Linked DNA regions of Homo sapiens. The protein of the gene in region 2 interacts with the protein of the main gene of each other region in a pairwise test. Each region holds a gene or a part of one and is shown on either strand. Other genes may lie near its edges.

What was found. The genes of interacting proteins can lie anywhere in the genome.
Region 1: the proteins of PEDS1-UBE2V1 (region 2) and TRHR interact in a two-hybrid assay, tested with the Homo sapiens proteins (one large-scale study listed by BioGRID).

The regions. Positions count from the first base shown.
Region 1 is NC_000008.11:109,089,585-109,093,084, forward strand, and holds part of TRHR (thyrotropin-releasing hormone receptor), read left to right. Parts: intron 1-3,500. UniProt on the Homo sapiens protein: Receptor for thyrotropin-releasing hormone (TRH). Upon ligand binding, this G-protein-coupled receptor triggers activation of the phosphatidylinositol (IP3)-calcium-protein kinase C (PKC) pathway.
Region 2 is NC_000020.11:50,150,924-50,155,154, forward strand, and holds the start of PEDS1-UBE2V1 (TMEM189-UBE2V1 fusion protein), read right to left. Parts: upstream 2,801-4,231; 5' UTR 2,715-2,800; coding exon 2,594-2,714; intron 393-2,593; exon of another isoform or gene 289-392; intron 1-288. Other genes in the region: PEDS1 (plasmanylethanolamine desaturase 1), read right to left, coding at 2,594-2,714.

The DNA of each region.
Region 1 (3,500 bases), on a different chromosome or scaffold from region 2:
AGATAACTAGATGACAGAAGAAAGACCTAAACAACTATTGTCAGCTCTTAGATTTCTTTTGCCTTGGATCTAGTAGTGATACCTAATATAAGGCTTATTCAGCCATTTATTACCCAAAACTTGATTAATGGAAATTTAGAGAGATCTATTGACTATCTTCCAAGACAAACATTGACAAATATAATAAGAAAGCAAAGAATATGTACATCTCAATTAGACACCAAACATGGGTTAATGTCTGCAGCAAGGAAGATCAGGGAGTAAATTCATTCATTAGACTCCAATTTGCATTCCTGCTATACATTTTTAAAACTTGTTTGTCTTGTCTAATGTCCTTTCTTTCCATTACAGTCATTAGTACCTATCAGCATTAATATGCTTTAATTTGCTAATTATGTTACATGTTCACAGTCTTATTTCAAAGCTGTTACCGATAAGCTGTCCTTACAGAGGCTGTATGATAGAAGAAAAAGCCAAAGACTTGGCTCCAAACAACCTTGGGCTTAAATGCCAGGATTCCATTCAAACTCTATAAACTTGGATAAGCAGAACTCTGTGAGCCTTAGTTTTGTCATCTGTTAAATGAGATAAATAGCAATATCCAAGATCAGTGTAAGGATCCATGAAATACCTCATGAAAAATGCCTAAATTGGAGTGGTGATTAACAACTGAGTATTAACTGGCTCCTTCTCAATTTTTAAAAATATTTTGGCAACTGTGAGGGAACTACAGGTTTTTCCTTAAAAATACACATTCACTGCTTTAACAAAGATTACTTGTTGAACAAATGTGTATATGACGTGGTAACTTCTTTAAGGAGTTTTTTTAAATAATTAGAGCATTTGGAAATACATTCTGAGCATTTGGGGTTGTCACATTAACACCACTGTCAGTTAGCCTCCAAGAATAAGGAATGAAGTTCCCTTGTTGCAAATACCAATAACACCCTAATTGAGAAACATGGAGTGACACATAAGCCAATAGGAGTGTATTTAAGTAGTGTGTCTTGTAATTCAACCCTGATTATAGATGGGATGTGAGTTCAGAGAAAAGAAGGAAAATTACTGGGCTACAGGGATCAGAGAAGTCTTTATGGAAGAGGTGGCATTTGAGATGGCTCTGGAAGGATGAAGATAATTTGAAAAGTAAAAGTCAAGAAGGACAGTATTCCATGCATAAAGGACAAGACATAGTGGCTGGGATGAGAATGGCATGGGTTTGGAGAGGGGCCAAGAAGGGGCACATAGAGTGGGACTTATGTGATGGAGCGACTTAGTTGTCTGAAATGAATGATGTATTTGTGGGAGTGGTAAAAAGTAAGACTGGATTGATGTGTGAAAGTGAAAGAAGAGAAAGAGACAGAGAGACAGAGAAGGCTGTGGAGGATCCAGACAATCAGGCAAAGAAAGGAATTTGCACTTAATGCAGAGGCAACAAAGAATGTGAGTGATGAGCAGGGAGCAGCAGTGATGAAATGGTGTTCAGGGATGAGAAATCTGACAGCCGTCGGGGAGGCAGATTTGAAGAGAGAGAGATTGGTGGAAGAAAGACCACTTTGGAAGTTGTTAGTAGTGATACAGGCATGAGGCAGTAAGATCCTCTATCAGGAGAATTTAAAGTAAAGAGTATACCAGAAAGATGTTTCAAAGAAAGAAAGGGTGTGATGTGAACATATTAGACATAAAGGATGAAGAAAGGACAATTCAATATGGCCCCAGGATTCTGAGTCTGGAAGAATGTGGTGCCCCGATCAGTGGGAATGAGAACAGTGAAGGGGAGCTAGTTTTGTACAAAATTAGTGACCTGCTTTTTTCTTCTTCCAAAATAGTTATTTTCTTAAACCTTTGAAAGGTTCAAACCTCCACCTTCTATAGCCAAAGGACTTTAATTTTAATATTTTCTCTGCATTTTTTTCTTTTAGGAAAGTTTAACTTACAGTTTAATAAATACTCATCTGGGTCAGGTCTTTCTAATCAAGTTCTTAAATTCAAATGTGCATAGCCTAAAAGAGAAACATTTAAAAAGGAAGTAAAAGAGCATTTACATGTAAGGGACAAATGTGAGTTTCTTCCTTATTTGTTTTTAACTTTCATTCTCTATGCAGAAAATCCAGGCCAAAATCTTTGTTTTCTTTTATTCAGAGATTCAATTATATTTTAGGAAAACATCTAAATGTTGGGTAAATTCCGTAAGATAAATTACCCAAACTTATGGCTTGGAATTGTGTAAACTAAACGGATTATCTGACTAAATACATTGCTTTTATAGTTTGTTATTTTAATATAAAGGAGACATTGTTTAAATTATCATATTTGTCTCATTTCAGCTCTATCTACACAATGCCTCAAGAGTCCCTCAGTTCAGTCAATTCAGGGGTTCAACATTATGTAGATACAATATCTCTATCATTGACTGTGTATTTCTATGTAATTGATTGGATTTTTGGTATTTTGAAAGCACAGAAACACCTGAACATCTTAGTAAAATGTAATATCAATAAATACATTCAATTCAAATATGTACTTTCTACAGGATGCAGAAATATGCAGAATATTTTATAGATTTATAAAACAGGCTACCAGTTTTATTATCAATGGAGTTGCTTCAATAATTTTTTTCTTAATTCTTACACAATAACAAGTAGAGAAACCATGTAACATAGTCTTAATAGAAGCTCTAAGAGTAATGGCAGAATTTTTACTATGGAATTCACTTGACTCATCAAGCCTTAAAAATATCGGTCTTTGTTTCCATGAAACTATTAAACATCTAGAAGGAATATTGGTAGCCCAAGAAACAGAAACAACTTTCCTTTTTATTTATTATTTATTTATTTATTTTTATTTTATTTATTTATTTATTTATTTTTGAGATAGAGTCTCCCTCTGTAGCCCAGGCTGGAATGCAGTGGCAGTATCTCAGCTCACTGCAACCTCTGCCCCCAGGATTCTAGAGATTCTTCTGCCTCAGCCCCCTGAGTAGCTGGGATTACAGGTGTGCGCCAACACACCTGGCTAATTTTTTTCTATTTTTAGTAGAGACAGGGTTTCACCATGTTGGCCAGACTGGTCTTGAACTCCTGACCTCAGGTGATACGCTAGTCTCGGCCTTCCAAAGTACTGGGATTACAGGCTTGAGCCACCGCACCCGGCACAACTTTCCTTTTTAAAGTAATGCACGCCTTTTGCTGTTATTGGTGATAATGACAATGATGCTATAAAAGCAGTCATGTGTATTATGGAAAATATAGAAAACTAGGAATAGGCAAAAGCCATCTCTTACCTCCTGACCCCACCTCTCAAAGACCAAAATCATCATCATTTTGTTATACCGCTTTTCTTATGTTTTCACTGGATCTTTTTTTTTTTTAAACACAATTATAGTCAAATGTATATGTAGTTTTGGCTTCCTGGTTTTCCACATACAATTTTGGAAATAATATTCTCAAAGAGAAAGCACAAGGCAAAGCAAAAGAAAGTGATCAGGATTAAGTTTGTTT
Region 2 (4,231 bases):
GACCTCAAGTGATCCACCCACCTCGGCCTCCCAAAGTGCTAGGATTACGGGTGTGAGCCACCGCGCCCGGCCAGCTCCATTTTTTTCTGTCTTGTTCACCATTCTGCCCCCAGAGCCTAGAACATGGACTAGAACATAGGTGTTCAATATGCACTGAGCCTGGTCTCTCACTTTTTCAGGCCCAGAGAGGTCAAATACTTCCCCAAGATCACACAGTGAGCAGATAGAAGCAGAGAGGCCAGTGGAAAGGAAGTTGGAGAAACCAGTTTGGCAAGTCTCCTCCCCTACCTCCAGGTCTGGAGGAGATAAAGGGCCTTGATTGCAGATTTGGGGCACCAGGCTGTCTGCAGACTCTGATTCAGGCATGGCTGTTCTTCAGAGAGTGAAGGGCACTTGGGGAAACCAGAAATGGACAAATATGCAATTGATCGTGGTGGAGTGGGGAAACAGCAATCCCTGGGGAGGCTCAGAATGCCTGGGAATGATTTGGGCTGTCTGAAAGTAGGTAGGGTTCACAGGAGCAGGCAGAGCTGGACACTAAAGAGGGAGGCCCTTGAATCCTTATCCCCAATTCCCAGGTGGGGAGTTTGAGGACCAGAGAGGTGAGGCGGATCCCCCACAGCAAAGGTCAGACTACTGTTAACAACAGGGAGGCGCCAGGCACAGTGGCTCACGCCTGTAATCCCAGCACTGTGGGAGGCCGAGGTGGGCGGATCACAAGGTCAAGAGATCGAGACCACCCTGGCTAACACAGTGAAACCCCATCTCTACTGAAAATACAGAAAATTAGCCGGGCATGGTGGCGGGCGCCTGTAGTCCCAGCTACTCAGGAGGCTGAGGCAGGAGAATGGCGTGAACCCGGGAGGAGGAGCTTGCAGTGAGCCGAGATCACGCCACTGCACTCCAGCCTGGGCAACAGAGTGAGACTCCATCTCAAAACAAATAAAACAAAACAAAACAAAAAACAACAAAAAAACCCACACAACAACAGGGAGTGCCTACTGAATGCCAGTGGACGATCTCATTTCCACTTCCTAACACGAAGGGGCAGATAAACTTTAACTTGCAAGGAAACCAAGGGGAAACAGAGACGGAAAGTGGCTTGGACCAGGTCATACAGCTGAATAACAGAGTCAGGATGTTAACCCTGGCCTACCCCCAGGAGAGCAGGAGGTTTTAAGTCCATAGGCTGGGTGTCTTGGGTATAGGCCTGAAGAAACCATAGCGGCATGGACCAGGTGCCCAAGTCAGGTGTGAAAAATCACATACAGAGAATGGAGTGGTCTAGGACCCAGTGAGGAAATGCAAATGGTCCGTGGCCATGCCGCCTTTTAAGGAAGAGACGGCATGGAACCCAGGCCAGTGAGGGCAGAAAGCTAAGGTGCTAGTGACCCCAGGCCCACTCCAGGCAAGGGCTGCATGTGGTGCTTGGTGGCTGCCCCACAGAAAAAGGAAGGATGTCAGGATATTTGACAAACAAAGCTTCATTCCATGGTGACACCCAGGTAGAGGTGCCTCCCAGTCACCTGAACCAGGAGTTCTCAAAGGCACTTCCTTAACTCCTGGGGATATAGGGCCCTCCTGAGGCCAAACAGTAAAATTCCTAGGGCTCACGTAGGAGTCACAAAAGTGGGTGTAGGGGGGGTGCTTGCTGGAGCATATACAGTGAGCAAAGCAGGAAGAAGCTAGGGAGAAACCGTGGCCTGAGGGAAAGGGACAGAGAGGGAGAGGTGAACTCCAACTTATGATCTGGTCTGGGGAATATGGGGGTTCCAGTCCCAAGTCCTAAGGAAGGGGCCAATACATGGATGTGAGGGAGGGGCAAGAGCTAGAGTTGGGGCTTATGTACAGGGGAGCTTACAGTGGGGTACATTCAGTCCCCTCACTGCCTGGGATCCAGGAATATGGGGCAAGGACTGATGCTCACCACTGGAGGGTTGGGGAGAGGATATCGGTCTGTAGCCACTGAAGCTATCACTAGGATGGGGTTTTGGGGGAAGGGTGTGGGGGGTACCGTGCAGCTGGAAGCCCCTGAGTTAGGGTTCCCTGGGCAGAGGGGCTGACATTCCCAGGTTAGGGAGGTGAGGTCATTGTTTGCAGCCCAGGGCCTGGGCTAGGGCACAGAGGAGGTACTAGGATGTAGATTCCAGATCTGGGGAACCCAGGATGAGGTGTGACTTTTAGGGGCCTGAGGGCAGTGCTTACAGCTGAAGGGCAGCTTTGGGCTTGGACCGGGTCCTGGGGGGATGAGGGGGTGGGGTTCTAAGTCTAGGAGCACTCTTCACAACCGAGAATGCCCCGGGGCTAGGATTCCGTATCTGCGGGTCCGATGGGAGCTCCGTTTGTCGCCCAGGGAGCTCATGGTAATTTCTTGATCTGGGGAGTGTCTCTGCAGCCAGGAAACCCCGGGGCCAAGGTTCTGGCTTGGGTTCGGAAGGGACACTGGGGTGGGGTCCCCGAACTTGCTATTTGCAAGTTAGACACCCGGGCTGGAGTTCCGCATCTGGGCCCGAGGTTGGGACTCCAGTCTGGGGTCGCTGTCCGCAGCCGGGGCTGGTGACCGCAGGCCTGGAGGGGGGCCCAGAGGTCTTACCTGGCGAGTAGAGCGCAGCCAGCTCGCGGGCCCCGGCGTGCTGCGCGCCCCAGCGGCAACAAGACGCCTCGTCCTCGTCCAGCTCCAGCTGCTGGCCCGGCCAGTTCTCGGCGCCCGCCATGGCCACTCGCCCGATCGGCCCGGTGCGCTCTGCTGGCGGCGGCGGCGGCAGGGCCGCGGAACCGCGGCGAGATCACGCCGCCCAATGACCGCCCAGCGCCGGGCGCGGCGGCGGCGCGGGCGGGGTCCTCGCCCGGCCGCGCGTCACAGCCAATCGGGGCTCGCGCCGGAGCCGCGCAGGCCAATCGGACGTCGCTGAGCCGCAGCCAACCGCCGCGAGCCGGAGGCTGGGACGCAGCTGGACGCAGCTGGGCGCGGAAGCTTGGGGCGGAGGCGCGTGCCCGCCTTCCCAGCTCAGCCCCGGCAGGGCTCCCGGCTCCAGCCCACTGGGAGCTCGCGGCGCGTCGCCGCCCAGCTAGGCTTCGGTTCACGGGCCCATGCAATGGGCCGAGGCAGGGCCCAGAAATGGGCATTTCTTGAGCCGGCAGCGTTAAGCGCCCACTGTGTGCAAGGAACGCGAGGGCAGGGCGCCGGGCTGGGGCCGAGGCCAGGAAGCATTTGGCGGGTGCTCTGTACGATGCTCCCTAGCGAGGCCGATGGAGAGTGGGCTGGTTTATCAAGCCCTACTGTGTGCAGAGGTTTCGGGTGCCATGTGTTCATCAGCTGTGTGCCAGCTCTGTGCTGTGCGCCCAAAGAGGAGAAACGTCGAGCCTGCCCCGCATCCTCCCCAGCTCATGTTCTCCCGGTGGCGAGGACAGTAAACTAATGAAAATGACAACTAGGGTCACTATGAGATTTGCTGAGCGCTTAATATCTGTCAGGTGCTGGACCAAGAGCTAGACGAGCAACATTTATTTGACTCTTAAACACCAATGGTATTGCCTCCTCAGAGAGCCCCACCACCACCACCCTGCTCAAAGGTGCCCCCTCCTCCAGTCACTGTGACATCACCCTGTTTTGTCTTCACAGCGCTTCTGGTGGGGATTGAGCTTGCAGTCCCTGTCTCTCCTATCAGAGAGCAAGCTCCTGAGGGCAGAGAACAGCTTTGTTTACAGCAGGGCCCCCGTGCCAGGATCGGGGCTGGAACATGGTAGAAGCTCAATAAATGCTTGATGAATGAATTAAGGCTCAGCCAGATGCGTCTAATACTTCGGCAGATAAATGACAGCAGCAGGGATTTACCCCAGGTCTAACCGACAACAAAGTATGCAATAATTTCTCATAGAAATTCCATACAGGCAGCCGGGCGCGGTGGCTCACGCCGGTAATCCCAGCACTTTGGGAGGCCAAGGCGGGCGGATCATGAGGTCAGGAGATCGAGACCATCCTGGCTAACACGGTGAAACCCCGTCTCTACTAAAAATACAAAAAATTAGCTGGGCGCGGTGGCGGGCGCCTGTAGTCCCAGCTACTCGGGAGGCTGAGACAGGAGAATGGCGTGAACCCGGGAGGCGGAGCTTGCAGTGAGCCGAGATCGCGCCACTGCACTCCAGCCTGGGCGACAGAGGGAGACTCCGTCTCAAAAAAAAAAAAAAAAAATTCCATACAGGCTGGACGCGGTGGCTCAGGCCTGTAATC